Linked DNA regions of Homo sapiens: regions 2, 3 and 4 are each linked to region 1. The links come from fine-mapping of genetic effects on gene expression. A gene starts in region 1. Each other region holds a variant in brackets. All regions are shown on one strand. Distances are from middle to middle. Region 1 holds the start of ALPK1 (alpha kinase 1). Region 2 overlaps ALPK1 (alpha kinase 1). Region 3 overlaps ALPK1 (alpha kinase 1). Region 4 overlaps ALPK1 (alpha kinase 1).

The links. PIP is the estimated chance that this variant, and not a neighbour inherited with it, causes the effect.
Region 2: its variant is fine-mapped to the expression of ALPK1 in whole blood (TOPMed, PIP above 0.99).
Region 3: its variant is fine-mapped to the expression of ALPK1 in whole blood (INTERVAL, PIP 0.94).
Region 4: its variant is fine-mapped to the expression of ALPK1 in whole blood (TOPMed, PIP 0.96).

The regions. Positions count from the first base shown.
Region 1 is chr4:112,293,780-112,301,972 of GRCh38, reverse strand. It overlaps ALPK1 (alpha kinase 1), which reads right to left and starts at 4,604. Exons shown (of 16, transcript NM_025144.4): 1 at 4,504-4,604. RefSeq lists an enhancer at 4,546-4,840.
Region 2 is chr4:112,426,166-112,434,358 of GRCh38, reverse strand. It overlaps ALPK1 (alpha kinase 1), which reads right to left. Exons shown (of 16, transcript NM_025144.4): 8 at 7,816-7,892; 9 at 6,694-6,789; 10 at 5,106-5,210; 11 at 1,778-3,911. Among named protein-coding and RNA genes, the nearest start is that of NEUROG2-AS1, 85 kb to the left of the region's middle. The variant G/A (reference allele first, on the strand shown) is at 5,100.
Region 3 is chr4:112,340,057-112,348,249 of GRCh38, reverse strand. All of the region lies in intron 2 of ALPK1 (alpha kinase 1), which reads right to left. Among named protein-coding and RNA genes, the nearest start is that of ALPK1, 47 kb to the right of the region's middle. The variant C/T (reference allele first, on the strand shown) is at 4,882.
Region 4 is chr4:112,383,019-112,391,211 of GRCh38, reverse strand. The region is part of intron 4 of ALPK1 (alpha kinase 1); the gene reads right to left. Among named protein-coding and RNA genes, the nearest start is that of ALPK1, 90 kb to the right of the region's middle. The variant A/G (reference allele first, on the strand shown) is at 3,884.

The DNA.
Region 1 (8,193 bases):
AGAGAGGTCATCGAGTGAAGGTTCAGTTGTCCACAAAGACACTGTAATTGGATGATGGGAGGATATGGGGTGAAAATGCATCTGTAAGTCGATAGCTCACTCAGGCTCTAAAATGTGAGCCTAGCCCAGGACGTAGAACTTGCAATGAGCCGTGATCACAATCACATCACTGCACTCCAGCCTGGGCAGCAGAGTGAGACCCTGTCAAATAAATAAATAAATAAGTAAATAAAATGTGAGACTGCTGATACAGAATATACGGTATCTTCTGTATCCCATGTATCAAATGCCCCAGAGGATTTCTCTTCCTACAAGTCTCTATCACAAGTGCTTGTTGAACATTCTGGTGAGAACATGTGCTTGGGAATAAGGTGATCAGAGGTCACTTTACTGAGTGAAAATATATTCAAGGGATGTGCCCCAAGAAGACCCCACAGAGAGCTAGAAAGAGCAGAAAGCTAGAAGGAGAGCCTAACCTTATCTACATAATGGTGCAGGAGTCTGTATAGCATGGAATTAACACAGTAAGGGCGCTTCTAACAGTTGCTGAGCTGCCCTGGCAAGCTGCGCCTTCAGAAGCCTAAACCAAGTTTCTCATGTCCCAAGGAAGAGGGTAGGTTTAGAGTAACAGGAAATCTGGGCTCAAAGGTCTTCAAATGTTGCTTATTGAGTAACCTGCAATCTTCAGAAGTGTATGTCAAACCTAATACATTAATATATCAAAAGAGATGTTACCACTTACAGTTTATTATCTTTCACAATAATTATTTGGGGCATGACCTCAGGGAAGAAAATTTCTCGGTAATGATATAGTTATCTTGGAAAATGATGACGGGCTGACCAGCAGTGTCCAAACTTTAATTAGAGCTGAAGTTACTGTGAAGAAATGCCAACTAAAAGGACACATGATGAGGTTCTAAATTTTTTTTTTGTAGAAAAAAAGGTAATTATGAATGGACAAGGCTTTTGCTGGCAATTCTGCAGATATTTTGGGTGCATATTATGCACTGATGGAGAATGCACCACAGTAACCAGATGTGCTGGGGTTAAGGTCAAAGCAGTGCTGGTGAGCCAATGACACAGTGCATTTTGAGGTGCAGTAGGAGTATATACAAAGACATGACAAAATTGAATATAAGTACAATATGTGCAGATATAAATTACTAAATCCAAAATATGGAAATCCATAAGAACAAGAAATGAGTTAAGAGGTTATTTGCACACAGGTCAGGCCAAATTTCCATTCCCCCTTCCCTGCCTTTTTTTTTTTTATCTTTAAGCCAAAAGAATTATTAGACTGAAGTAAAAGCTACAGTTGACAGAGAAGCAATCAACACAAGAAAAATGAACCAATAGTAAGTGTTTCAACTGGTATTTCCTTCTCTGTTCACTGACTCCGCTGCACCTGTTTGTTCCTAGCACTGAGACTCCGTCCTCTCTTCTTTCACATAGCTGGTTATTTGTATGCCAAATAAAAAGAAGGAAAAACTTTTATCTTCCAAAGCTGCATAGTTTTATTTACTATATATTATTAGCAATATAGTTCTATTTAATAAACTATATTTGTTTTCTCAAAAAAGATATAAGTATATTATATAATAATTTAAAAATTTTTTGTAAGAATATCATGTTATGTAGAAAGAAATAGAAGGAAGGGAAAGAATCTATCACTGTAAGACAACAATCACTTTTAGAATATTTCTGAATTTATATCTATACCATTTTATGTAAATACTTGCATGCATACAAGTTATTCAATCCTGAGTCTGTTTTTCACTTAGTATTTTCTGTGCTGGTACTATTTTTTATCCTATCATGTTTTATGGGTACAGTATCTTTTGCTTAACCTCCCCCTTTTATGAGAATGCTTGCAATTATTTGTTATTACGACTTTATGATGAACATGTTTGCGAATTTTTCCCTTGTCTAGAATTATTTCCCCCTTAGGATGGATTCCCAGAAATGAAATTATTGCATATAGCCATTGGCACATACTATGACCCATTAGTAGCCCTTGATCTAGATAATGTTTAAAGTCCCCCCTGGCCCCTGAGTTCAGAAGTTCAGTGAAACAAGCAGAATGAACCTGTAGTATTCAAGCTGAGACATTTCACCCTTTCTATCACTCTTATTTGAAAAAGTATTGGCTATCTTCTGCATCCCTTCAATTATATGATAATTTACGAGGAAATATAATAGTTTATTAGGCTACAGGTGTGATAAACGTTTGATAAAATATTTCTCTGTCAAATACTTTGTACATCTATACTTAGGAAATTGAACAGATTGCATTGTCAACTGAGCTCTGTAACCAAGGCCCAGTAAAATTCAAAGATACTGCACTGGCTAAGAAAATATCCACTTCTCAAATGCATTAGTGTAGCATGTCTGAAACTTTAGCCATTTGCATGCCATCTTCATAATTTTTGCCAAATCTGCAGATTACCTGTAATATTATTTATTTAATCATTTCCTTAAAATCAATAGTAAATTAGCTCAACTTCTTACTTAACACTTTCCTGAACAACAGTATTCATGAAATTCTAGGTTTTATAAGCAAATTATGTTAATTTATATTAAGCTAGCAAATAACTCAAAATTTTGAAGTTTAGACATGTACTGCCTAAAATCAGTAGCATGTATACCATACTTAGGAAAAGTTGTATTTGTATGTATCTGATATTTAAGTTATAATCATCTCTTCTTTTCTTCAGACATAGAAGAATGATAGCACCAGATAATATTCTTTCTTTTAAGTTTGTCTATCCCACAGTTCTCTATAAATAAAGCATATTACAACATTCTGCAAAAACAGTTGTCACCATCAATAACAAGAAACAAAGACTCCCCCATATAGAGAGGCAACAAATACAATACAAAATACAAAAAAAACAAAAATATGGAATATATTTTCACCAAAAGTTTAAATGCTCATTCCTTTAAGAGTTCTTCAATCCATAGATATTCAAAATTTCAAGAAAGAAAATCATTTACAATGAACAGCTTATGCCAAAAAGCCATCATTCTCTGCAATAGATTAGAGAATAATAAAAGCAATTCATGCCTTGTGTTCATGGGAAAGGGATCAGTAAAATTGTTTGGAATAGAAGGAGCCATGGAATTTCAGAAATATCTTGAAATGCACAAACTTATTCTTAAGGAAAACTTCAGGCTCTAAATCCAAACCTAGATCACATGGCACTTGCTGGGAGGTATTGTTACAGCTTAACACATCAGCAAAGCTCATCACAGTATTATTATATATGATAATGCCTAATATCCATCATAATTTACACATGCCTTTTCTTTACAGTTTAAAATAGATTTTGAAAAGTTTAAAGTAATTATTGGCTTCCTACTCATGCAGATAGAGATGCTATACAATTTTGGTGTCTTCTTGGCGGAAGAAATTTGAGAGATTCATCTCAGATTTAAAAGATCTTTGATATGGGGAATAAGTTATTTCTAAAATAAGTTTAAGTATTTTGTTTCTCTTGAGGCTTGAGGTTGATGGGGTGGGAAGGAGGTGGGAAGAGAGAAGTAAATTGTTTCGGTCAGCAGACAAGGACTGGACTTGACATTGGTTCTAGAGACTAGAGTGTATCCCAAGTGCATAAATTATACCCCAAATTAAATGGATATTGTTTCTTATAAGAGAATTAGTGGCACAAAGTAAAAAGAAAGTAAAAGGGAGAGAGAGAGAGACAGAGAGAGAGAGAAATATATATCGCAAGCAGAGATGCTATTATATTGTGGCATAAAGTCCTCTCCTTCCTGATCCTGCCTGTTTGTACCCTCACCCATCCTCAAATCCCAAACCATCTTAAAGGTTTTAATTTGTGGCTTTTCAAAGTACTCTAAAGTACTAATTTCAAACACTAGAATTTTTTAATTAAAGGATTTTTCTAAATAGACATGCAAAGGAATTTAATTTTTCTGGATGCTTTGTCTCTAAACAATGCTTCCACGCACTCAGAATTCCCGTCAATTCACCCATATGAGACGAGTAAGTCTCGTGCCTTATCTACCTGTTTCCTAGCAAAATTACTGATGCTGTCATAAAAGTGGTAGTTTCTATTATTACCTATGTATTCCAGGCAAAAGTCATAGAGTTTTTTTTTAAACAAATAATCCTAACAATCCTTTAATTAAACATCTCAGTTAAGTGACAAGACCAGAAGCTCAGTGACTTAAGAAACTTGTTATTAAAACCTTATGAAAAACTGGTTTGCCTTCTCCCCTTCATAATGACTACAGTTTACCATTGTAGGTAACTTTTCCCTTCTCTCCCTCCCCTTCCCCACTCCACCCCCTTCACCCCACCAACTCATCCTCCCCTTTCTGGAAAGTTTCTATTATAGAAGTGCAAAGGTTCTTAGAGCTCTAAAGTTATTTAAATATAAACAAGATCAGCAGATGGAAACTGAGTCAACACTTAAGACAAATACTTCCTCATATATTATGCCATCTACTGCGTTTTGTCATTTAAAGGATGATACTCACTTTTATCTTAAAGAGGAAAAGTACTTTAAGACCAGCAAATCTAACTCTGAGCAGAGTTAATTCTGGTACAGCCTCTCTGAAACACACTGTTTCTCATAAACGGCTTCAGTTTCAGGAAGTAGGAATTAAAAAAAAAAAAACAACCAATCCTGTGACTGTCTCAGAATATGGTTGTGTAATTCAATTCCGGGACTTTCAGCAATCTTGCACCATAAGACACACCCCTTTAGGAATTGCTTCGGTGAAAGGTATTCTGGGAGCTGTATTACTACAGAAAAGTTCCTTCTCCTAATGAAAGTGCAAGAAAAACTTATTATTTAGACTAAGAATGGAGAGTCCTCTTAGAGCCAAGAAGAGAGAATGTCAGTAAGAAACAATGAATATGACATTGTTGAAATCTGTTAGCAAAAGACAGATGCACATTAAGGCTTCATTCTGTGCTCTGTCTTAGAAGTGAGCTTGTTATCACAGAGACACATATATTGCTGAACTGGAAAATAAAGTTAGGACTTTTTGGATAGAATATCTGATTAGGCTGACTAGTTTGACAGTGAAAAGTGTCTTATTGAGTTACACAGTGGACATTGTCCTTCCATGGAACAACTGAAATCTGCAACTCGAAATTTTGACAAAAAAATCAAAAGTACCTAAGATTTCTAAATGTCAAAATATATTTTATTGGAAAAGTTATTGACATAAACAATATTTTAATTTTCTCAATCCTTTTTGAGCCTGCTGGGTTAAAGAAGTTTCCTCTAGAGTGAAGGAATAATAGGTTTTATTAATAGTCATTTGATACATTTTGGTAAAGCCTTTGGTATACTTCCTAGAAACTGAGAGAGTGAAGGACTCCAAAAGCTGGGTCATAAATGCTTTGGCAAGTCAATTGTTTACAACAAAATAGGAGGAAATAGTTGAATAGTCAGTTGCTCGATCACTTAAAACACATTTTTTTTGTGTGATAGATCGCTATGTAATGTTTAATATATGACCTTAGAAGTTTAAATAACCAAATGGCATTGCTATAACAAAATTCTATCTCTATTTATTTATGTAAACACAGTTCCTCTCCTCTTCCATGTGTATATTTTTGTGGAATGTTGTTTTATTCCAACTATAAGTAACATTCAGCTGTGAATTAATTTTTTAAAACTCCAGAAATCTTATGGAGAAGTGACACTTGAATAAATTTTATCACTTAATATTCATCAAAACGTACCATTTTATTTTTGTCTTCTTCATCAATTATGAATCAATACTTGTACAATTCAATCTTTAAGAAAGTTTAATACTTAGAGTCTATGGTCACAGAAAACAGAAATGTTTAATTTCTTTTTTCTTTTCTATTTTTTTTTTTTTTTTTGAGATGGAGTTTCGCTCTTGTTGCCCAGGCTGGGGTGCAGTGGCACAATCTCGGCTCGCTGCAGCCTCTGCCTCCTGGGTTCAAACGATTCTCCTGCCTCAGCCTTCCGAGTAGCTGGGATTACAGGTGCCTGCCAGCACGCCCAGCTAATTTTTTGTATTTTTAGTAGAGGTGGGGCTTCACCATGTTGGCCAGGCTGGTCTCGAACTCCTGACCTCAGGTCTGTCTGCCTCGGCCTCCCAAAGCACTGGGATTACAGGTGTGAGCCACCACACCCAGCCAGAAAGGTTTAATTTCAATATATACTTTTTTTGAGAGACATGTTGCCCAGGCTGGAGTGCAGTGGCATGATCTCTGTTCACTGCAACCTCTGCCTCCTGGGTTCAAGCGATTCTCCTGCCTCAGCTTCCCAAGTAACTGGGACTACAGGCACCCGCCACCACGCCCAGCTAATTTTTGTATTTTAGTAGAGACAGGGTTTCACCATATCGGCCAGGCTGGTCTCGAACTCCTGACCTCTGGTGATCTGCCTGCCTTCGCTTCCCAAAGTGCTGGGATTACAGGCTTGAGCCACTGCACCCGGCCTACATATTTTTACTGTAAAGAAATATGACAAAAACTTTCAAGTATATAAACTGTTTTATACTAGGATAAACTTCTATGGATGAAGTGAAATGAAACAGAAGGTTACGGAAATACAGGAATGATATAAAATTTCCAATTGTTAAAAAAGATTTGTACATGTGTCTTTATTTTTAAATTTTTTAAATTTTAAACTTTTTTGAGATAGGGCTGTCACCTGGGCTGGAATGCAGTGGCACAATCACAGCTCACTGCAGCCTTGACCTCCTGGTCTCAAGTGATCCTCCTGCTTCAGCCTCCCAGGTAGCTGGGACCACAGGTGTACACCATCACACCTGGCTAATTTTTGTTTTTGTTTTTTTGTTTGTTTGTTTTTTGTAAAGACAGTGTTTCTCCATGTTGTCCAGACTGGTCTCGAACTCCTGGGCTCAAGTGATCTACCCATCTCAGCCTCCCAAAGTGTTGGGACTATGGGAGTGAGCCACTGCGCCCAGCCTGTACATGCGTTTTTAAATGGATGATGGGGAACATCAAATCACTAGGATATAAAATTTGTGTTGGATACATTTAAAAGAGTAATGTATGAGTTATGTTTATTCAACGTCAGATTTAGACCCTTTGTATCTAAAGTTATAATGAAAGATGAATATCGACTTTATGTGAAGGAATTATTGTCTTTGCAAAATTCTATTTGGGGGTAGGGGAGCAAAAATGTTGGAAATACAGTGTTTAGGATGAAGGGCTGTACATTTCAGAGCCTAAAAAAGGGCACTGTACACCTGAGTATGGAGAGAAAGGCAATGGCACTGATAGAAGAGGAGGGATCTCATAGGAGATATTATCTTTCTTACAGTTTGGACAACAGTCAGATTGTCTTCAACAGGGATTCCTGGTAAGATCCTTAGAGTCATGTAAAACACAAAGACAAAATGGCTCATTTATAATCCAGTGGTGAGTTTTAGTAAGATTTCAAAGATGGAAGTTTCATTACACAAATTTCAACTATTTTAAGTGATTGAGATGTACACCTATATAAGGAATACATTATGACACGCAGGAAAACTGGCTGCAGCATCATACTCATTTTGATTTTCTAGGATTTATCATCTTGAATATAAAATATAAAATGCTGATACAAGCTGACATCATTCGTTCATCTCAATAACATGTTTAGGGAATCTTTTGTGTCAAGTGCTACATTGGTGCTACAGATTCAGACTGTGCACACAAGCAATGCACTTAAGGCAATCACAGTGACTGATGGATTAGTAGTGATGTGGCCAGAAATTAGTTGGAAAAAATTGGCAAGAGTTGGCTCATAATAGGAGGTCTTTGTGTTTCATTTTAAGGAGTTTGGATATTTATATTGACAACATAGAAAATTTGGGCCAGGCGTGGTGGCTCACGCCTGTAATCCCAGCACTCTGAGAGGCCGAGGCGGGCGGATCACGAGGTCAGGAGTTCAAGACCAGCCTGGCCAAGATGGTGAAACCTTGTCTCTACTAAAAATACAAAAATTAGCTGGGCGTGGTGGCGGATGCCTGTAGTCACAGCTACTTGGGAGGCTGAGGCAGAGAATTTCTTGAACCCGGGAGGTGGAGGTTGCAGTGAGGCAAGATTGCGCCACTGCACTCCAGCCTGGGCAACAGAGCAAGACTCCATCTCAAGAAAAAAAAAAACAACAGAAAACAGAAAATTTCAAAGAATGTAAAATCATAAAACTGTTTTAGAAAGAATACTTACTG
Region 2 (8,193 bases), 130 kb before region 1:
CAGGGGATGCCTGTGGGCTGGGCGGGATGGTGACCAGGGTTGGGTGACTCAGTTAGAGAAGCCGGATGGAAATGGAAGGTGAGTTGTCTGTCCACACACAGGACGGGTGATAAATTGAGAGAAGAAAAGAGGAAGGGAATCATTGTTCTGTTTCTGCCATTTTGGGCCTTGCTTCCTCTAATGTATTTCATCCATAAATTAGCAAACGATAACAAATAAGAAGAAAGCAGTTACCTCATTGTAATAAATGTGATTCCAAAATTGCAGAATCTCACAGTTAGTAAGAAAACCCTATTGCTGGAAATTTTTGCTTTTTTTTGGTAACAATGTGATTTGTATTTTAGTCGGACTTCAAGGTGGCAGGCAAAACATTGGAATACTTTGAAGCAGAAGCTCTTAACAGTGGCTTTAAGCAGAATCACCAGAGAGGTGATAAGAAATAATGATCCCTGGGTCCGCACTCCAGACCCATTAGATGGAAATCTCTGGGGTGAGGCATTGGAAGTTTTTAAAAGCTCCCCAGAAGAGTCTCATGTGGCGCCAGGGTTGAGAACTACTATTTAATAGCCAGTGCTTAGTGATCCATGTAGTTTATCTCTTCTGGGAAGTGCTTCACAATCTTTTTGTTTTTTTAATCATTCAAATCATTTTTCTGTATAGTAGGAGGGCATTTTGATGTGATTCCTGGGCTAAGAGAAGAATCTCCTTCTGTCTTCCTCCCAGCTTCTCTACCACTTTTAAGCTGTGTTAGACATTGACTACTAGGTGGCTCCAGCCCAGGCTTCCCGCTTTGGGCAGTGACATTGGGCTGTTCCTTAAGCAAGAAGTAGCTGCTGATTGCAACAGTAGGGGTACTGTAGTCTGGAAGTTTTTATCCCCCCTAAATTCACATGTTGAAGTTCTAACCCACAAGGTGATGGTGTTGGGAGCTGGAGACTTTGGGAGGTGATTAGGTCCTGAGGGGTAGATTCCTCATAGATGGGATGAGTGCCCTCATAAAAGAGATCCCAGAGAAACCCTTCCCCCTTCCACTATGTGAGGACACAGAGAAAAGGCGCTGTCAATGAACCAGAAAGCAGTACCTTCATCCTGGACTTCCAGGCTCCAGAATTATGAGGAATAAATTTCTGTTGTTCATATGCTACCCAGTTGATGGCATTTTGTTACAGAATCATGAATACAAGATGAGGATGCACTTGACCAACCAATTGGCTGGCAAGAAACCGCTTAGGTAGACAGGTGTAAAAAGTCTCTGCCCAATAGAAAGATGATATTTAACTAGGTCAAACCATGTCCCCATAGAATTCTAATGGGGAAAGATAGAGAAAAATCAGTTGGTTGGTAAAAAGACTCGAAGGAGAAGATAGATGCTGAGCAGATAATATGGTATCCAGCCTGTTAAAATCACCTGATTGGTAATGAGAATCAATGAAGAAGATAGATGCTGAGTGGATGAGACGGCCTCCAGAGCTGTTTTCAACCCTTAGTGATGGCTGTGCCAGAGTCCTCTAAGTTTCCTGTCTCCCTCACTACCTCGTGTGTCCTTAGAGCAAACCTCCAGCATGCAAGGTAGCCTGAGCAAGCTTCTTTACAACCATTAAGGTCCATCGCACAGAGTGAGGGAGACCCCTGAAGTATACATTTCTCTGTGAACTCACAAAGCATACCAGGGTTCTATACCTTTCATGAGCTTTAAGTGATCTACATACCAAGCTCTTCAGAGTGCCCCAACACAGCTGCTTCCTGAGGGGGGAACTATTGAAAAGATTGTACTTACTATGTGCTCGGTGGAGTTGACTGGGCTTAAAAACCCCCGTATTCTCTAGTCTCTGAAACAGCCAATCATGCCTCACTCCTGCCAACAGCTTTTCAAAGTCATCAGGTTGCAAGGTGCGAGCCTCAAGGATCTCTTTCCTCATCTTTCCCGGCAATGAAACCCAAGAACTCCCACTGGAATTCAGATAGGACCAAGGGCTGTCCCCCTCAGAAGAACCACTGGAAAATGCAGGTGATTTCAGCCACCACACTGAGGATGAGCTGGAGTTCTGGCTGCAGTTTAGCATGTTTCCAGGCTGATTTCCTTCCTCTGTGGTAGTGCAGTCCTCGCTGAGGACAGGGAAGAGGATGTTACCGCTTACAGAGGAATTGGGGGTCTCCGCCCTCTGACCAGGCGGCTGTCTCAGAATGCACAGTCTATGAGAGCCGTGCCCATTTGTGCAGGGAACATCCATGCTGTCGAGCAGTTGCCCCTCCTCATCCACTGTGGAGGCATCAGGGTCGATGCCCTGCTCTGCGACTGGGCCACCACTTTTTCTGGAGTCAGGATTTTGAACAGGCCAATTAGGGGTGAAGGAGCTACATGGCAGCATGGAAATGTTTCCCAGAGAATTGTGCAGGACCCTGTGAAAGTCTAAGGGTGCATCTTCAGTGCTTTCTGCTGTTTCTCCTTCTGGGTCAACCCAGGAGGGACTAGCTTTAAATGTAGGGCCTGCGCCTCTTTCACTAATTTCTTCTCCCTGCTCTTTCCCCTGCCTGTCTTTGACATCGCAGTTGGTTTCTGGAAACTCAACAATTATTTCAAAGGCTTCTTCTTTTTGGACTGAAGGATGTGTGCCCATATTCTTGGGCCTACCAGAATCAGAAGACCAAGAAGCAGAACGATATGAGGGTCTGGAGTGAGCAGAAGTATTTCTGGGTCCCATATTTCTGACTTCCTGGATACCTTCTGGAGCTCCTTCTAGAAGCCCTGCACCAGGGGCCAAGAAAATGCCTGGGGTATTATGAGGCGAGAAGGGTGTCAAGGGCATCTGTTGCTGTGGCTGATTTTGAGAAGGCTCCAAATTGTCATTGTTGGGTTCCTGAAGAGAGAGATCATGAAGCTGTGAATGCAATGAATGCATAGCTCTGCCTTCCCTGTCATTCTCTAGCTCCTCAGACAAGGCAGTGGAACACTGAGTGTCCACCAGATGTTCTTTGCCAGGCTCTTTTCTGGCTGACCTGTCGTCAACGTGATAATTCACTTCCTCCCAGCTTGCAGAGGAACTAAACCCTGATAAGTTGCTCCAAGCACTGGAAGTCTGGCTGCCACTCAGAGACTTGTTGAAAACAGCTCCCTCACCATTGCTGTAGTCCGATGGCTCAGTCTCAGTCTCCACATCTTGATCCAAGGAGACTCGAAATGCATCAGAATGGGTCCAGTTTCTCCTTCCTCCCCTTCTGAGTTCCCTCTGAACATTCTTACCCATTAGGGAGGAAGATATTCCTGTGTCTCTTTGACAATGTGGCTTTTCTTGAGTAGTACTCACAGTATCTATGTTTTTTATTTCTGTTTTTAGAGCAGTGATGCAGACTCCTGTTTTTGCATCTTTCTGTTCATTTTTGTTGTTTCCACAATCACTTTCAAATACTTCACACACCGAAGTATGGTGCTGTGAATAGGTGTCAAGGATTTTTTGGAAATCCCCTTGCCCATGCAAGATAAGTTTATCCAACCTGCACTCGAAACTCTCGGGAACATAAGATCTGTCATCTACATTTGAGAAGCTTTGAACTTGTAAATGTTCCTTCACCTGGGCAATCACAGACATAACTTCTTGAGACAGAGCTTCTCTGTCCTGACTTCTGGAGGAAGTGCTGAAATTGTACAGCTTCCCCATTGCTTCCTTACAGAGCTGACTTGCTGCATGGACCGTCCCTGTCTCCCCATGGAGCCTTCTGTGCACTGTGGTGAGACCGAAAGCAGCTTTGACAAAGCTGTGAAGCTCCTGTTTTCCAGTAACAGGCTCATCATCTCTCTTGGTGAGGAGGCCAATCTCAAAGGCCTCTTTGGCTTCACACAGATGTAAGTTTTTCAATTCTGGAGGACAGTCATTTGAACTACTGTAGGACAATAAACACGTGCCACGGATATTCTGGGAAAAATACCAAATACCAAATCAGATATTGAATTGAAAACTGCAAGTGAATCAGGACAAACTTTTCATTTCTGGAGGACAGTCATTTGAAATATTATAGAAAAATGAACACATGCCACATACATTCTAAGGAAAATATACAGGCAAACATTGAGTTAAGGACCCGAGGCCTTTTTGGTGAATCAGAAGAAGGGATGGGGATATAAGTGACTGGCTGGCATGAAGGGGTAAGAAATCAGCTTCAATTACCATCCTATTGTATCTTTGATACATTTTGATTAAAGACGATAGGCTTGTGTTTGTTGCTGTTGTTAGTTTTAACAGAGTCTATCCATGGAAATGGATATAAGTTTCTCTATGCAAATAAGGATGCCATATATGAATACATCATTCATTTAATGTCGAAACAATAGGGCATTGGTTTCCGAATGCATCTGTGCATTTGAATCACCTGGACAATATTCCAAAATTAAAGATTTTTGGATACCAACCTCAGAGATTTGCATTTAGTGGATCTAGGGTGGAGCTCAGAAATGTGTAGTATTTTTTTCTTTCTTTTTTTTTTCTTTTTCTTTTTCTCTTTTCTTTTCTTTTTTTTTTTTTTTGAGGTAGGGTCTTGCTCTGTTACCCAGGGTGGAGTGCAGTGGTGCAATCTCAGCTCACTGCAAACTCAACCTTCCAGGCTCAGGTGATCCTCCCACCTCAGCCTCCCCAGTACCTGGGACTATAGGCACGTACCACCACACCTGGCCAATTTTTATTTTTTAATTTTTTGTAGAGACAAAGTCTCACCATGTTGCTCAGGCTAGTCTTGAAATTTTGGGCTCAAGCCATCCTCCTACCTTGGCCTCCCAAAGTGATGGGATTACAGGCGTGAGCCACCATGCCTGGCAGGAATATGTATTTTGAGAAGGTTCCTTGGGTGATTTTGATGTGCACTCAGGCTTGGGAACCATTGCTTCACAACAGACAACAATCTACCCTTGGGCTGAATTAATTTAGCTCCTAGTAGGCTGTCAAAACTCCGACCAATAAAATTTTTCCATATGTGGTGTGGAGTCTTATCACAATTGCCACTGATGAGACACAAAGCCTGTTTGAAGGTTAAACCTTTCCCTTCTCACTGGTTACATCAGAAAGCACCCTGGGAGAGGTCCTGTGGGGGTTTGAGGAGCGGCTGCATTC[G/A]TTTACCACAGCTGTGAGCACGAAGAGCGGCGTATAGGCACTGAAGGCAGCTGCCAGCTTGCAGGCTTCTGCAGCGGACAGCAAATGGTGGTCAAACTCCTTCAGCAGGCTCTGTGAGAAAACAGGAGGCTAAGTGGAATGGTGATAATTAATTATCGATGAGCAAAAAACAGGCTATGAAATGGTTTTGCTTTTCTTTCATGATTTCAAGGGACTCCTCACCGCAACCCGTTCAGAACAGTGTAAAGAAAGAGTAAGTGGGTCTAAAGACCACAAGGTGTTGACTTTCCTTTTTCCCAGCAGACACACACCTGTGCAAAATAATTTGGGTGAGCTTCTTTGGAGGACGGTGGCAGTTCTTTGTTCAAAGGAACTGCACATTTTGAAGCCAGATTAATTGATTTCTGCACGCTCTTGGCAAAGAGCCCTTTAATTGATGATTTCACAGCAATTAGAATTCATTTATTAATTCTGTAAATACGTATAGAGTACCACCACATTCCAGGGCCTGTTCTAGACACAGGGGAAACAGCAGACAGTGAGCCCTCAAGGAGCTTACTTTCTGTTGTGGGGGAGGGACCAGTCAATATACAAAACAAGTAAAGTGCATAGTATTTGAGATTATGACAAGTGTTCTGGAGAGACAATAAATGGAGAAGGGGTTAGGGAGGCCCAGGATGGGAAGGAAGTTTGCAATTTTAAACGGTCATCAGGGATAACTTCAGTGAACAAGGGACATGATCCTCCTGTTTTGGTCAAACAGAAAAAGCAACATCTTAGATTCAGATTACCATCAGCAAGCTGTATGTGTTCTTTTGCTACACTAATTAGTATTGAGCATGGTTACTGTTGTGATTTAATGGTATCTTTAATAATGGGGTCTTGAATAAAAATGGCAATATAGACGATAATAAAAACTCCATTTAAGCACAGTGTGAAGAGCAGCAGAACATCCTTGTCACTTCTCTGGGCTGGTCAGAGATCTGGGCTCAGCTCCCAGTTCTCTCTCTTACTGGTTGTGTAAACTGCAGAGGTTAGTTAGTTTCTCTGCACTGCATTTTATTTTTCTCTAAAATGGAATGATACACTTTGCTCTACCCTCCTCATAGGGTTTTATTGGATATATATATACTTTCTTGAGTTGTAAAGTGATATATAAAAATTAGCAGTCATTATTATCAAGGACGAGAGCCTGGAACAAGGGACTGATGCTCTGATTTGAACAGATGGTGATTACAAAGTTTTAAAATTATTACCCCTTTATCATCAAGATGGCCCAAGTTTGGAAACTGCATTTTGTTATACTTTGAAAGGAAAGAAGTGAGGCTCAAAATCATTTTGTTGATATTCATTCATTCATTCACCAGTAACTTTCTGAGCACTCTCTGAGTGTCTGTTACAGTGCTAGGCGCTGGGATAATAAAGCCAAATAGGACCCCACAAGACTCCTCCCCAGGATTCCTCCCATTTGTCTAGGAGGCGCAGCACTGAGCTCCCTGCCTCCCAATCTCCTGAGAAAGACAGCCACTAACCAACCACCAAGGACACGATTGACAATTTTACAGGTGATGCCACTCAGTGTTATGATAATTACCAAATTAATTTGTGGATTGTTTTTAAACTTTTCATAATCGTTCTTGCTCATGGAAACAAAGATGTCTGCCAGTATACCTAGCGACGTGGAGAGGCCCTGTAAGAAAAACACAAAGAAGTCACAGATCGGGAATTCACAGTGGATTACTGCTCTCATCCATGGCCTAAAGGCTATGATTATTCCTCCATATGAACTATTTGCCTATTAATATTTTATTACTATGACATTGGAGATACTATTTTTAAAAATCAATTTTTAAAAATACTATTTTTAAAAATACTATTTTTAAAAATACATGTTTTATATCAAACATGTATATAATAATTATACATGTTTATGGGATACAATGTGACATTTTGACATATATATACATTGTGTAATAATTAATACCCTGACTTGGAGATATTTTTAAATTGGCTGCCACAGAGCTTGAAGGATCAACACATCCTAGGGCACATGGGCCTAATGTAAACACAGCTACTTCTCAGTTGGGTTTCACTGGATGATCAATACTAACTTGTCCCTACTGCTAGGCCTGAATAACTGGCCCAAGGAAGAGCTCATATCAGTCTGTATTGTAAAAGAATCGTAGACAGTAATTGCTTACACAGCTCAGGGAAATGTAATAACCAGATGTTTCAGATAATGAGACTATTCCCACAGAATTCCAGAAAATGAAAATGTCAAGTAGGAAGGCAGATGACCTTCCTCAATTTCTTGAATAAAGGTGCTATATAAACAGTTGAAGTCTTCGCCCACTCAACTCAAGAAAACTGATTTTACATATAAGCAACTTGGTCATCTCAACTTTGCTATGCAATCAAGTAAAGAGTAAATATATAACAAAACAGATAAATGAATGGACCAGTAGAGATAAATATATAAATGGACAGTTACAAATGATTATAAGAACACCATCTATGCACCAAGAGTCTAGCTGTGAGTGAGGATGAAGCAAGACACATAAGGAAGCTACTAACTGTACCTGGCCCTATGCTTGTGAAAAATAAATAAAAATAGGACAGATGAAATTGATATATGAGAAATGGACTTCTGTCATGAAGAGATAATCATCCAAAGACAAATACAGGAAAGGAGAAAAAGAAGCACTAGACAAACCACCTTTTTATCCGGCTGAGGAAGTGCCAAATATCCTACAATGGAGGCCCATATTAACTCTGCTGCTTCGTACCACATCCCTGAAAAAAAAAAGAGGGGCGGGGAGAGGGACAGGGGAGGAACAGCTAGTATCTGTGCTCTTGTATAGAGAAAACCTTTGAAAACAAATACAGAACCAAGACTCATTAGATTCTGTTAGGAAAACTTAGGCTTAGATTAGATTGACACAGCAATGTTTTTCCAGTTGTAATATAGACAATTTTTCCATTTCACTGGGAAACAGAATTATTATATATTTGTATATATAATATGTGTAATATATGTAGTTATCTCAGTTTTTTACAAAAATAATAATTGCCACCTCCTGTTAAAATTTCTCAA
Region 3 (8,193 bases), 46 kb before region 1:
TTCTGAATTTGAGAATCAAGAACTAGATTTCACCAGGCTGATTTGGAAAATGAGCACAGTTTTAGACTTTCAGGATTCTACACTTTCTGTAAGAGTTATGTGACTGAGTGAAATGCGGCTAAGTTGCAGAGCAAATGTGCTCAGAACGCCAATCACCTGGCTTAGGGGATGATTATTGTTTTTGAACCACTCTGCTTACTTTCTTTGGTACCTCTTCAAGCGGAAGAACTCTCATTTTCTCCTTTCTCTAATAAGGAGGATGGCGATCTGAGACTTAGTGTTAATTCTATTCTTTGCTTTTAGCTAATGAAGGAATATTTGCCAGTATAGAGCTAACAGTGTGATACAGGAAATTTTTAAAAAATAAGTAAATCGAAATAGGCAAGTGAAACATATTAGCTTTTACACAGTCTATTACTGGCAAAAAATAATTGCTTGCTTCCTGCTCTTTCCTTAAAGCTTGGCTTTCATAGCTAACTTAGAAGTTTAATGCATCAAATAAGATGCACTGTATCTGTAAACTTCTCAATGGTATTTAAGCATTTACTGAATATCTGTTGTATACATATTTGGTATTTGGAAGGTTACCAGAGAAACAGAAGAGATATTTTCAACCCACAGAAACAACTTCATTCGAGAAGTAAACATAATTATATAATTCAACTTGTAAAAAATTCCAAAGCAACATTCTGACCCACAGGATGAGTTTACTTAAATTTAGGAAAGTTGGAGAATTCATTCCATCCTTCCTACTATTATACTACTTAGAAGAAAAGGTATTTATTATTAGATCTTGACAAAGAAAATTGAATCGGGTTGATGATATGACTTTTATAAGATTACAGTGAGGAAGGTAGCAAGGAATATGGTTCCCATTTGAAGATTAAGTCAAAAGTTCAGTGATTTGTCAAAGTTCAAATAGCAACTCATTAAGATTACGTGCCAGAAGTTAGACATAAGCTTTTAAGGCCACTGTGGTTTTATGTGAGACCACTCTGTGTCCTGCTTTTTGTGGGGAAGAAACTGATCATCATACTGACAAGCAGAAATCATTAGTTTAACAGAATGTTGATTCTATGACAGAAAAGTATATGTAGTTTATTTAAAGACACGACTCTTAGGCTTGATTCTCAAATTTTAAAACACTGAAACAGCTACTGCTATATTTTTCCTGGGGAAAAAGTATCCTAATTTGACCTTATTCGAGCTACAATATAAGTCCAGAGGACCAATGAAGGGGAAGAAAAGAACTGATGAGGTCTAAGTGGTGATTGCATTTATAGATTAATCCTGACAGGAAGCAAATACATCTCCTCCCAGGAGGCCCCAGTGTAGTCAACTGAGAAGTGGGGTCGTTATTTATGAGCACAGTGGACTCTTCCCATTACAATAAACATTTTAATTACTTTAAGTGAAAGATTATTTTTGCTGGTAGGAAGCTTAAAAAGTAAATACTGTACTGTTGTTTGTTTTTCGATGTTGGCTATGTGTGTAATCTTCTATTCTTAAAACTGTTTCACACAGCAATTTGTCTTACCCTGAAATCATAATGGGAAAATAGTATATACTTAAGAAAGCATTTCACATACCAAAACCTGCAATGCCCCACATGGGGAAAGAGTAGGCCAAATGACTGGTTGGCATCATGGACCCAGAGCAATTTCATTTCCATCTGTTTTATATGATGGCCATCCACATACAATTTCATTGACACCAATAAGTTTGGAAAACACTTATCCAAATGAATCAATGAAGATGGAGTAGGAACATAATGATGGTGTGATTTTTATTTTTCAACAAGGTGACACATTCTCATTCTAAAAGTTACTACCACATATCACAAAACGTGTCAACCATATAAATCCACAATGAATGTCGTTAAGAGTCCTCATGAAACTGTTGTGTTATGGAAGCAAAACAACTAATTTGTAATATGAGACTCAAATAATGAATTTCCTTTCTTAAAACTCAAAGTCCCATGATTTCTGACTGATAATATATGATATAATAAATGATATTAAAGAATTAGTGTTAATTTTTAAGGTGGGATAAAAGTAGTGTGGTTATATTTAAAAAGAGTTCATATCAGCTGGACGTGGTGGCTCACACCTGTAATCCCAGCACTTTGGGAAGCCCAGGTGGGCAGATCACCTGAGGTTGGGAGTTCGAGACCAGCCTGATCAACATGGAGAAACCCCATCTCTACTAAAAATACAAAATTAGCCTGGCATGGCAGCGCACGCCTGTAATCCCAGGTACTCAGGAGGCTGAGACAGGAGAATTGCTTGAACCCGGGAGACAAAGGTTGCAGTGAGCCGAGATTGCACCATTGCACTCCAGCCTGGGCAACAAGAGTGAAACTCCAAGAGTTCATATCGTTTAGGGATACATTCTGAAATACTTAGAAATGAAATTATATGGAGTCTGAGATTTGTTTCAAAAGAATTTGAGGCATGGAGCTGGGGAGAAATTAAAGATGTAAATTAGTCAAGGTTGGCTATGGACTATTAAATGTTGAAGCTACATAAGAGTACATGAAGTTTTTACATTGCTCCCTCTACTTTTGTAACAACATATTCGAAATTTTTAATAATAAAAAATTTAAAAATTCTCTTTTGAGGACCCCAACAAAAAGGAATGGTCTTGATGAATTTTGAGAGGCAGCAAGAGACCGTTCTGAAATTATTTGAAATCTCCTCTTCCCTGGTTTAGATAACCAACAAAATTGGGCTTCGGCCTCCCTAATATGACCACTACTCTGCAAAATGAAGCTACTGCTTTATCCAATTCTGTAATTAAGTCCAGATTATGCATATTTGGAGTATCTGCTTACTGTGTTGCCAACAACACATTGTATTTTTAATCAGGGCCCCATTCCACCCACATCCACATCATGTAATGCTTCTAGGTTACTGTGCCTCATTGTCCTGTTAGTATGTACTTAGAAATCACAGCTGAACTTTAATATTATCTTAAGCAAAATACAAACAAAAAGTTAAATGTGGTGCAAAAATAATCATACCATATACTTCAAAGCCATTAGTATGGGTAAATGAGCACTGTCTATAAAAACACGAGAAGCACGCCCCCTATTAACACTGTCTTGGGAAATCAGAGGCTACAACTCTGAATGAGCATGGCAGCCATGCCTACTTTTACCGAAACCAACACACTTCTATTATTCTACTTTCTACAGAATTAAAAAATTAAACAGCTGACAACAAAAATTCTAAACAGTGGGAAAGAAAATCTCCAACTTCATTGATCTTTAAACATTTTTTAAATACGAAAAAGTAGTCTGGTGAGTTGAATGCTTAGAGGTTTTGAACCAAATTAACTAACATTTTAAATCTGTAATTTGCTGTCACAGGTACCACCAAAAGACAAGGTGGAGAGGGAAAATTGCTATTGGTTAAATACTTTCTGTACTTTAGGTGCTATGCTGTGCACCTCAGACACAAAACTTTGTGATATTGGCTTTATGATCCCCACTTTAGAGATGAGAAAGTTGAGGGTCATGGAGGTTAAGTAACTTTCCCAAGGTCACATACTAAACAAGGTGTGTATTCAGAATTTCCAGGAGTCTTTGACCCCATGAATGCTTTTAAAACCATTTGCCTTCCAGCCTACTTACACAGTCCTGAATATTTCAAAATGTATCAATACATTGAAAGATGTAACCCAAGTCCTTTTTAATGCTCTTAGACTTCCAATAAGATAATTCTATGAATTATTTTCTATGTATATATCACATATGTCTTCTTCCAATTTACTGATGAATCAATTTCTACCTAGCCTGATCCAAATTATCAAACTCCATACTTTAACTATACTAGAAAGAGACAGACAAAAAGTCAGAAGTCTAATTCAACTGTTCAGTCCCACTATTTTCACATTGGAAAGATCATTGCTTACAACTGAGCTCTCCCTAGACTTCCACTCGCAGCAGTTCAGGCTGGAACGTGCTCTCCTGTCACACTGTCTTCTCCAAGTGCGAGGGAGTTTTGTCTAGTAAGAGATAATTAAAGACATGGCAGTGCCACTTGCTAGGATTTCACTCTTTCTCTTTTACTTCTTATAAAAGAAGAAACTTCAGTTTAAAGATTAGATTTTTTCCCCGCTTTTCTAAAGCTGGGTATACCAACTGGCATCGGCTGTATTAAAATCAGGAGAAACCTCAATCAAAAAGCCTCTCTCGGAAGGCAGGCTTTCTTGTTAATATGCACCAACATGAAAGGCTTTCTTTTCATCCTATACAACTACAGTGTGTGTAAATTGCAGGGGGCTCATTGGCATAAATCTCGCCTGCGACCTCTGAGGTAAACTGGATTTACATTACTTTCTGACAAGAATTAAATGAAGGCCTTGTGGATATATGAACAGCCTTCTAGGCTGCAACAGATGGGCATGAATGTGCTCCCTAGGAAAACTATCAGTGACATCTGTGTCCTCCAAATTCTGGTGGTCTCAGCCAATTAACGGGGGTAGGGGGGAGAAGGGGGGGAAAGGGTGGGGGTTGGGAGGCCACAGCACAACCCCCAGCCAAAACCCAGGCAGAAGTGTTTGTGTTTGGAGATGGGATCAGGCTGGCCTGCAGCAGCGAGGTTAGCACTTTATTGTTATCATTCAAATGGAGAATGTGGCTTACAAGCTATTTGTATACCACAGCGAGGATAATATGATTTTTCTCATTTGACCGGAGGAGATGGCCCTCTCTTGCAGCTGATATCATATTTCAGTGCATTCTCTTTGAGACGGGTATTTACTTTTGTCTCTTCCGAGGCAGGCTGAGGGTGTTGCTGTCTGCCAGTTTCTGTAGTGCATTCACTAGTCACAAAGCAGGTGAACTCTAAGACGACACAGAGATCTTTCCCCAAAACA[C/T]TCTCCTTCATAGTCTACTTCTTTCTTTCTTCAAAATGGCATTTACTGATTTCACCAAAAATTAAAAAATAATCAAAATCAAGGTTTTCTAGTTAAAACGAAGTCAAGAGAAATGACATCAGATATCTTGAATGAAGTGGTGGAGGAGTCCTTCAAAGGATACGATGAACCGTGAACCCCACTGTCTGAATTTACCAGGTCTCAGCACGTCAGTCCCTGTGTGTTTAATGTGCAGGCAGGAGGAAAACTGGAGAAGCCAGGACAGAAGATAAGATTCCTCTCTGGCCCCTCTCCTTTGCTGCAATCTCTTGGCCCACTTGCTTGGACTGTGTAGGGCAGGAGACCAGGACTGGGGAGCTGAAGGGATGGAAGGGGAGAGAAGAACTAACATTTACTTGTTCTGTACCAGGAGGAATCAGGAGAAGCGTATGTAGGTATTCCAGGTCCCATGTATTCTGGGCCCCAGCAATAAGAGCAGAGGCTTTGGATCTAAAGTACCCAAGTCTGAATTCTAGCTCTAACATTTACTGGAATATGAGAGAATGGGCAAGTTGCTTAATGTCTTTGTGTCTCACTTTCTCATCTGTAAAATTGAGCTAACAATTGTATCTACTTCTTAGTAAGGATAAAAGTACATGACATATAGAAAATGCTGGCTGTTTTTATCCAGAATTTACTGTGGATTGAAGGTCCATGGATAGAGTCCTAGACCTCTAAACTAGTTAGGCAAAATGAAAGGCATTGTGTTATACTAGCTTTTGAAAATTCAGAAAAGTGATTTTTCAAAAGAAGCAATTGTCATTGCTTTTAGGAGCCTGAGGTCATGCTTTAAAATTACATATTTTCTTTAATATATAAGATTTTGAAATTCTTTGCTAAAATAGTAAATATCAAAAGCATCTAGATCATTCTAAATTATAAAGTAGACTATCAAGAGGCAAGTAACATAACATTTAGACCAAAAAAATGAAATTAAGGTGTTTATTTTCACCTCCTTTTCCTAATTGCAGGAGTGGAAATGAGTAGCTTGTTCTGTCCTAAATTGGTTATTACATGTGAAGTTTTAGGAGACAATTGCTAATCATGATAGTTTGGATGTAAACTGTACACCCCTTTGTCCTAGGTGTTGTTTAAAACATAGTAATTCCACACAACCATTGTGTACAACAGCAACAACAACAAAAGGAGGACAAGTGGACCTTCTAAACAAGTGGCCTACTGTCTAAGCCATAAATGCTCATAGTGCTATTTTTAAAGTACATTTTCACACAGGAATTCTTATTCTCTTCTTCTCTGTATGATTTTTTTAATGATTCAATTCTAAGAACTTTGGCAAGCTGAGTTTCAGCACAATGTAAGCTTGCTTCTAGAGGAAGTCAAATTGTTGGTCAACAAAGAAGTCTCTTGCTCTTTCTCCACAGAACTCCTGCGCTGGCTGGAGAAACCTGTGGCCTCAAAGGTGAGGGTGAAAGCAACTGTAGGCACAATTTTTGTACACGCTATGACTTATTATGCTGTAATACCAAACGTAATTTTGTCTTATTCTCTTGGCACCGATATCATTATGTTGAGCAATAAATAGAAGAGAAGCCTTTGTCCACACAGGGATTCAGAAAAGAATCAACACTAAACAAAAGCACCTGTTGTTTCGTTCTTGTAATGACCTCAGAAGTGACCAGTTGGCTGCATTCACCCCACACTCCTCCTTAGGCTTTGCCCAACACTACCATCTCGCACATCATTATTGGACGTAAAAGGAGAATAATTGAGGAGAAGATCAATAAATTTAAAAGCTCTTTAAAAAAAGACATAATGAATTTGGTACAGCACATATTTTTAGATCAAAGATGGCTTTGAAGTGACAAAACCCTAATCTATATACTACTGAAGCACTTCCTTTCTCTCCCAAACTGCCTGTTGTCAAATAAAATGGAAGTTAAGGAAATTATCTTTATCTGAAAATGGCCAAAAGAAGCCATCACCTAATGACAGCCTTGTCACAAGCGACAATTGGGGAAATTGTCAGGAAGGCAAGGCCTAACGAGCAGCAGAGTGGGCTTGCTGTTTGCACTAATCTGGCCATGCAGCCCCCACACACAATCCCAGTCAGCTTGCTGTGTGAAACAGCTAAGGCTTTGTCAGTGTTAACAGGGACTGGAAAGAACACGCTTTCATGAATATGTATTACCATCCCTCTATGTCTACAGAGACAAACCCTTCAAAACTGAGATATAAAACACACACGCACACAGACACACACACCACCGACCAACAAAAACCAAGAGAACCTAAGCTACTTGGTTGAGTGTAGGGAAATGCTAGTAACTAAGCACCCAGTTCCATGTGTTTGCTGGGATCTTTATTTCCCAGCAATTGAGATAAAATCTTTAGGGGGCTTTCAATCTTTGGGAACCACGTGCGTGAATTCAAAGATGCTACACATCATTACATGGACTGCAAATCACACATCTTACAGTGAATTCACTTTCCTAATACCAAATGCGTTCTGAAATTCTAATACTAAAATGAAAATAACTTTGATATCTTAACTAAGTGCATGTGCAGTTTTAAAAAACTGATCAAATCTCATACCGACTTCCTATGAAGTAGTAAAAGCACTATGTGGAAAATTATGAAGATGTAGCATTTCCCAACATTGAGTAGAAGGACATTGCTCACGCACAAAGTGGAAATCACAAATAAGAAATTTTCAGGTGAAAAGGGTTGAGGGGGGAATCTACTCTGTAAGCCCTTTGTAATCTTAATAACAGTGTTTAAGAAAATCCATATTATGTGTATTTTTTTCTTCAGAGATAAATGATTTTACATCCACCCAAGGGCATAGATCTAGTAAGAGATTTTTGAGTGACTGAAATTACTTTTTCTAATAACATTGAAATTTAATTTAAGTATAAATACGTATGTGTATGCATTTAACTTCACTTTTTTTTAGAAGCAGATACATAGGACAGAAAAGTATAAGGTTATTTCTTTTTTACTTTTTTCTGATGTAATAAAGTTTGGTTTCCCACCGTGCAAGAGACAAAGCTCAGTTTTGAAGGTTTTCTATATTACGCAATGTTTGCCGTAGACATTTACATTTCATTAGCATATTCTGCTCTACATGAAATCCAGCATTGAATGCTCCCAGCGCACTAAGGCTAATCCTCTTTAAAGAGCTACAGGCTATATTACATGTGGCCACAGCAGCAGTCTTGCCATCGCTGCATCACTTTGAAGACGATGAACAGAGTTCTCTTGTGTGTCTGTCCATACCCAGACTCATAAACCACTGCTTTCTGTGCTGTGAAA
Region 4 (8,193 bases), 89 kb before region 1:
TTCTGCTAGGGACTGGCATATGTCACTTCCAGCCACATTTCATAGACTAAGACAGGTTGTGAGGGCCTAGCCTAATATCTCCATGGGAAGGTATATTCCTTTCAGAGGGAGGCATGCAAGTCACATGGCAAAAGTGAATATGTGGGAACAATAATACAATCTACCTCAGTCTAGCTCATTCCATGAATCATGACATACCTTAGGTTGTTTTTCATAATGTCTCTTAGATATGCTTCCTCTTTCCACTTCTCTCAAGCCTAACGTTTATGCAGGACCTCACATAATCATTCTTTCCTTGGCAGTTCAGTGTGCTCCCCAAACTCAGGATCTCCCCACTCCAATTTATAATATGCACAACAAATAGCATTATCTTCTTCAGGTGATTACTTCATTTCTTTATCAGGAAACATTTAAGGCATTTACTTAAATGCCTTCCATCCCTGAGAGATACATGGGCATTATCCTCCTGACCAGTACCTAGACAATTGTCTGACTGTGGGCCACACATGGGGCAGCCTCATATATATTTCAACACACATGCACATCAAACACCATGTTTTTCAAATAACATTAATACGGTTTCATTCATCCATCCATCCACCCATCCATCCATCATCCATCCATCCAAGGGTGTTCTTTGAAGGTATGCATTTTAAGTGTCAGGGATATAATGGTGAACACAGATAAGGCCCTGACCTCATGAAGCTTGTAGCTAGCAGAAGAGAGAGACAGAAACCCCACAAACAAATGTAAACAAATGTAAAAGAAACCCCACAAACAAATGTAAACTGCAACTTTGAAAAGGTGATACCTTATAGCCAAGCCTATATTGAGGAAGTTTGATTTAGTCCCAGAGATCAGGGCAGGCTTCCCTGAGAACTGAGATGTGAGCTGAGAAGGGAAAGATACACAGAAATTAATCAGGCAAAGGAGGGAGGGAAGAATGTCTCGGGAATGGAGAGCAGCTATGTGCATGGAATAATCCCGGTAAGAGTGTGGACTGAAAGGAGGCCATGAGATGGAGATGATGCAGCAGGGGCAGCCAAGGGAAGGACTATGCCTGGCAGGGCCCATGGGCCTCATTTCAGAGTTTTGCATTCCTAGGCATACTAGGGTGACAGACTAGAGTTGTAGTTTGCACAAACACCTCTGTGCATGGAGAAGAGATGTGGAGGAGTGAAGTGGGGTAGATGTGTGAGGCTATTCAGGAAGCAATGGCAGGAGCCCAGGTGAGATATAGCTGCAGCTGGAACAGGAGTAGTGATGGGGTGGAGGGGAATTGAGGAGAGATTTAGAAAATAAGACCTACTAAGCTTGGTGATGGAATGGATATGTCAGGCAAGGGAGAGGAAAGTGACAAGAATGACCTTGAAGTTCCCAGCTTATTCTACTGGACCCTGAAAGGGGACCTTATTTGAGAGCAGGGAAGAGAGGGACCATGAGTTTCAGATGTCTGTAAGACATCCAAGAAGCACATGCCAGCTTCCCCTCCTGTGCTGTCTCAGGTAAAGGCATCACTGCCCAGCACATTGCAAGACTGAAATCTTATACTTAGTGCCCACCCCGTCTGTCCAACCGGTCACCACATGCTCTTCTGCCTTTGACAAGTAGCTCAGCTCCCTTCCTCATGCTCCATTCTCCTGATTTGCTATCTTATCTAGGGGACCTAAACAAAATACAATTGTTGCAGCCTTAGAGACACCAGACATTTGGCTGGAGCAAGGTTCTTTCTGAGACAAACTTTCATTTTCAGATCATGACAAGATCCAGAGGTTCCTGAATTAGTCAGGGCAAGAGTAGGAGCAATCAGGCCCCTGGCCATGGCTGTGACCAACCCCTGGTATCTCAACATCTTAAAAGCCAGCACAGGCCAGGCACGGTGGCTCACGCTTGTAATCTCAGCACTTTGGTTAGGCTGAGGCAGGCGGATCACAAGGTCAGGAGATTGAGCTCATCCTGGCCAACATGGTGAAACCCTGTCTCTACTAAAAATACAAAAATTGGCTGGGAGTGGTGGTGCGTGCCTGTAGTCCCAGCTACTCAGGAGGCTGAGGCAGGAGAATCGCTTGAATCCGGGAGGTGGAGGCAGCAGTGAGCCGAGATCACGCCATTGCACTCCAGCCTGGACAACAGAGCGAGATGCTGTCTAAAAAAAAAAAAAAAAGCCAGCATGGCCCTCCTTGTGTGCCCCTGAATGGAAAGAACAGAGCTGTCCATAAAGAGATGGGGAGTTCAGATTGTGACTTTGAAAAGTTACTTCTCTGAGCATTAATTTTCTTAACTGTGAAAAGGGAATTATAACCCTTCTCTTTAAGGGTTGTCGTCATAGCTTAAAGAACATAGATTGAGCAACTGCCACATATTAGGAGGTCAATACATGGGAAGAACCATTCCAATAAGCTGGACTTTGACAAGGGTTGCCCTCTGTCTTCATTTTTGTAGTTTTCCAGGACATGAATTGGGTCTTCTCTTTCTTCTGCACTTCTTTGAGTGTTCTGTCAAACATCTGGCACATGCTGACACCCAGTAAAGTTTGTTGAATGAATGAATGCAGAGTTTATCTACACTTTGTGTTTTTTTTTTTTTTTGCAACTTGATGAAAAAGATTTCTGCTATGAAAGCCCCAAAGCATATAAGATGAAAAATGATGAAAGAATCATAATCTAAACAGCACCTGTTACTGCTTTTGAATTCTGTATTACTAATATAAAAACCGGCACCTGGAATAAATGTTTTAAAATTAGTTTTAAGGACATCTTTTAATCAAGAGCTTATTCATGGAGGGAATTTTATTGTTTCCATAACTTTCTTTAACTTGATATTTCATTTCCTAATAAATTCATACTTTGCTTTCTTTTGCTAAAGTCTCTCCTCCATCCCCTGAGCTCACGAGTTAGTCACACTAGGCATTTTTAAAGCATTTTCTGCAATCTTGCAATAACCAACTCTTATATTTATTCATGTTTATTCATGTTTTAAATCTCACCCCTCTAACATCTTAAGTAGTATAAAAACAAAAATATCAACAAGTCAAAGGCACCAAGATAATACAAAGAGACATATTAGAAAAAATATTCTGACTATGCAGCCATAAAAAAGAATGAGAGCATGTCTTTTGCAGGAACACAGATGGAGCTGGAGGCCATTATCCCTAGCAAAGTAACACAGGAACAGAAAACCAAATACCGCATGTTCTCACTCTAAGTGGGAGCTAAATGATGAGAACTCATGGACACTTAGAAGGGAACAACACACTGGGGCCTATTGGAAGGTGGATGATGGGAGGAGAGAGAGTATCAGGAAAAATAACTAATGGGTACTAGGCTTAGTACTTGGGTGACAAAATACTCTGTACAACAAACCCCTGTGACACAAGTTTACCTACATAACAAACCTGCATGTGTAGCCCTGAACTTAAAATAAAAGTTAAAAAAATTATTGGGACTAAATTGATCAAACTTTATTCATCCACAGGGGTTTTCCACAAAATAGCATAAAGAAACAACTCAACATTTATTATTATTATTATTATGGTGTCTTTTCAAATCACTCCAGGGCACCACAGACACTTTCCAAAAATATTTACAACATCAGGGCTATCAGATTACCCATTTTTCATGGTTGTAGAGTTGAAAAGGACATGGGAAAAAGAATATCCTCCTTCTGAGCCTGCTTCATGTCCTCAGACTGTGCTTTTAGTGCCAACCTATAAAAATGATCTTGTATCTCCGTGAGTGGGCACCACAGTAAATCCAGGGCTGACTGACAGCAGGCCCCTCCCTCCACAGAAATAAGCCAGTCTCCCTCCAGCATCAGGACCCCCAAACCTGTGCAGGGAATGTTCAAACTCAGGGCTATCACACAGCTCTTGGCCTTGCAGCCC[A/G]ATCTGCTCCCACTTGCAAATCCAAACACACCCTTTACTTTACTTTTTGAAAGCTTTACTTTCATATTTTATTTTAATTCACTAGACATTTTTTGTTGTTGTTTAGAAGAGTGAAAACTACAGAAAGAAAAATTCCCAAGGTGGCATCCACGTTGAGTCCTTCCCCGGCATCTCAGCAGCAAGTTAGCATTCTATGGGTTTTCCTAGCTAGCACTCCACCGCCATGGCCCAAAGCTGAGCTAAACAGAAGCTAACGCTAAATGCCTTCAATACTTTTTGAAAAATCCATCAAAGGTTTTGCTGAATGATATTTATAAGGGCCTTACTGTTCTCTTTCACAGACTGAAATGCCCTTCTCCGACACTTGAAAAAAGTTGCTCATGCTTTTCATCTTTCCCTCTCAGAGTGTAAACATTGTTTTGAGTGAAAAGAGCTGAAGGAGCGCTTACTTTCCCTTGAAATTTTATTTTTAAATAAGAGAGGGAGAAAATCCTTTTTCTGACTAATACTAATAATACAGGTCAAAGTGTCAGGCGATATACAATTAAATGGAAAACAAAAAAGGTTCCCCCTCTTTTTCCCACAGTACAATGGTGCTGGAATATAAATTACCGATGAAGATGAAATAATACTTCAAAGCCTATAGGGCAGGGCAGCTCGGTGTTTACAAAGTATTTTCTATGGCACGATGAGACATTAAAGATGATGGTAACCCATGGACTTGAGGGTGTTGCTGAATAGACTGAAACTAGCATGAGGTAGGATTTTAGGTCGCCGTAGCCTGTGACCCCGTGATATGCTTTGTTTTACAAGGGCAGCTGCAGTTATCAACAGATGTTTCAGCAATAAATAATTGGTATCATCTCGGAAAAGACCCATCTACCTAGGGAGAGGGCATAATACCAAAAACACTGCCCAGCTATTACAGCCACATTAATCTCCCATCTCTTCAGGTTTCTTGGGGAGCGTACTGCAGGTGTTTTTTCTGGGAGAGCGCGGACAAACTCTCTCAAGTCAGCAAGCTTTGTGTGGAGTGTAAAGGAGGTTGGCCCCTGCCATAAATTTCTGTCTGTGGCCACACACCAAAGGAAAAGGGATTGGAGAGTCAGGGAGGAGGGGAGGAGAGCAGTGGGGAGGGAGGAAATGGGAACACAGTGGAGACCAGAAAGCAAAACACAAAACATGTATCATTTTTCTTGGTTAAGTTCAGCCCAAGAGAATAACATTATAAATGACTCTTAATTTTACCAACTCATGAACTGTGGAAAACAGTTGTTTGTGACTTGCCTTTTTCTTAAGCATTCTGTTCTCAACTTCGATCTGTTATTTGTGGAATTAAAGACACAGTGTTTATGCTCTGAGTACAATGCTTATTTGAAAAACAGAGGGGAAACATTTTATGGGAAGGATTCATTTCAAGGTAAAAAAATCACAGAAAGTTTATATTTATGAATAAACTATAAAAAGAGAGAAAACATGAAAAGACAAACTCAGTAATCTTTAAATATTTTTTACATGAGAATGGAATTTCACAATTAATCAGTTATTAAAATATGACCATCCAGCTCTGACAAACTCTAATATTGAAATCGACCAGATTGGGATACAATGAAACAAAAACAAATCATGGAATTTATTCAAACTATTTTTAATAATCTAAGATATTAAAAATAGATTTTAGGAGTGCCTGACTTACAGGGTGCTATGGTTCTCCATATTTACAAAACAGAGTGGTTTAGCAATTGTGCACTTGGGGTCTGGCACAATAGGAGAACATCCTAAAAGTCATTAGGAGGTGCGGTTGCTTAATTTATAGCTTGCTGGGCAAGCTAAAGAAAATGATGCTCAGAGTTCAAAAAGCTGCCAGATTAAATACATTAGAGACTAAAGAAGGCCTAATAGACAGCGCCCCTTAGAGCTGCTACTGAGTGACCTTGTGAGCTGGGCTCAAACTTCTTAAATTCTCTATGCTTCTATTTCTCCAATTGTGAAATTTGTGTAGTATAGAGAGGCATAGCGGGAGGTATCATAAGTGGGCTCTTAAAATAGTCTACTCCAACTATGAGCAGCTTCTCTCCCAACTCACATTAAACCCCCAGTGCAGCGGGACTGATGTTTTTAATGATGTTTAAAACATCGTTTTCAGTTTTTAAGCTAATGTCACTACCAGCTTTGAATGCAGGGCTCAGGGGATCTGGTGATTGCAGGATGGAACAAGGGGAGTAAACCCCAGTTATAGTGATGTGCCACATCACTCAGCCTATGTTCAAAAGTCAGAGAAACCTGCTAAGCCCAAAAGTCAAAGCTGAGTCACTCCCTCTTGTGAGGCCGTTTTGCTCTCGCCTTCCTTGGAAGGTTTGTAAAGTTCTTTTATGCCACTAGGCTAATTCCACAAGGGATCTCCAAGCAAGTAAAGTGACCATCAGCTTTTGCAGAAGGGCTCCAGTCTAAGCAACAGTTCCCAGAATTGATGGAAAAGAGATTTTTTTTTATTGGATTGGTCTCCTACAGCCTTCTCACTGGATTCTCCTTACTCCTTACCTTGACCCTCTCCACTATATCCCCATTCAGTCTCTCTGCCCTTCCCCCTTGCTTGCCACTCTACTCTTTCCTGCAAACAGTGGCTCTCAAACTTTAGCATCAGAATCATCTGGAGGGCTTCTCTAATGCTGATTGCTGGACTCCCACCCCCAGGGTGTTTGATTCAGTAAGGGTTTTTGATTTGCACCCAAGAATTTGAATTTCTGACCAGATTTCAGATGATGCTAATCTATTGTTGGGAGGTCTCACATTTATAGCCACTGCTTTAGAGCTGCACTGTCCAATAAAATGGCAGCCCTGGCCACATGTGACTATTTACATAGAAATGAATAAAAAATAGCTAAAATAAAAATTCAGTTCTTCGGTCCCATTCACCACATTTCAAGTGCTTGAGAGCCATCTGTAGCTAGTGGCTACCATATTGAACACAGCTGTAGAACATTTCCATCATCAATACAAAAAGTGTTACTGGATGGCCTACAGCTTACTTTAGATACAATAAGTAAACCTCATGGCTTCTACCTGTTTTTTCAAGCTCTTCACTTGGTGCTTCCTGATGGAGAATTGGAGTTGGATGAAGGAGAAGGCTGTAAGTCACAATTTCACCACTTACTGGTCTGTTCTTCCCCTGAGCAAATTAATCTCTTCGCACCTTAATTTCCTTGTTCAAAAGAGGGATGATAATGGTAATACAGGAGAACCCCAACTTAACAATTGTTCAACTTATGATTTTTTTACTTTACAATGGTGTGAAAGCAATATACATTTAGTAGACTACAACCATTCTGTTTTTCGCTTGCAGCACAGTATTCACTAAATTACACAAAATATTCAATACCTTATTACAAAATAGGCATTATATTAGATGATTTTGCCCAACTGTACACTAATGTAAGGGTTCTGAGCTTGCTTAAGGTAGGCTAAGCTAAGCTATGATGTTTAGTAGGTTGGGTGTAGTAAATGCATTTTTAATGTATAATATTTTTGACCTATTATATTTCCAACTTATGATGGATTTACTGGGGGCAACTCCTTTGTAAGTCAAAGAGCATCTGAATCACTCTGTAAAGTGTTACAAGCACTTTGTAAACTCTATAGTGATAGTTAAGTTATAGTTATTATTTTATTCTACTTTTCCACTAATACTGACCACATTTATTTAAAACCCTGGCTCACCATTGTGTTCTCCTTAAGCATTCACTTTCCTTTGCTTGCAATCCCCAGTCTGCTTAACCTGTTTTGTTTGTTTTTTAGGAGGATGAGAGAGCTGGGGTTTTACTGTTTCTATTAAGTCTCTAAAGATGCTCTTGTGTGTCTATAGATCAGGGGGTCTTTCTTAGATTTTTGCTTGAATGGGCAAAGACAATGTCTATATATTTATTTTGGGATGACTCAAAAATACAATCTTACGTAAAGCAATAAAGTAAAAATTTTAGGATATTGTCATGCTTTAATGCCTAACAAATATATTTTTTATTTGAGAAAATATATATATATATATAAATTAGCAAGCTTTCTTCCTTGACAATCTTCCGAGAGAATGTGGGTAAAAAGCAACGCTATCAAAAAGGAAAACGGTTCTCCCTATGTTATCCCCAGAATCAAAGCCTGAATCCTGAGCTGCAATCTGAGTTCCTGTGCTACTCCCCAGGCTCTCTTCTATCTGGCATAGAAGTACCAGTTCAATTAATTTCCAATAAATGAGTTGAGAAATAAGCATGTCAATGACTTTGACTTGATGCTTCCTGAACAGCCTTAATCTTGAGGAT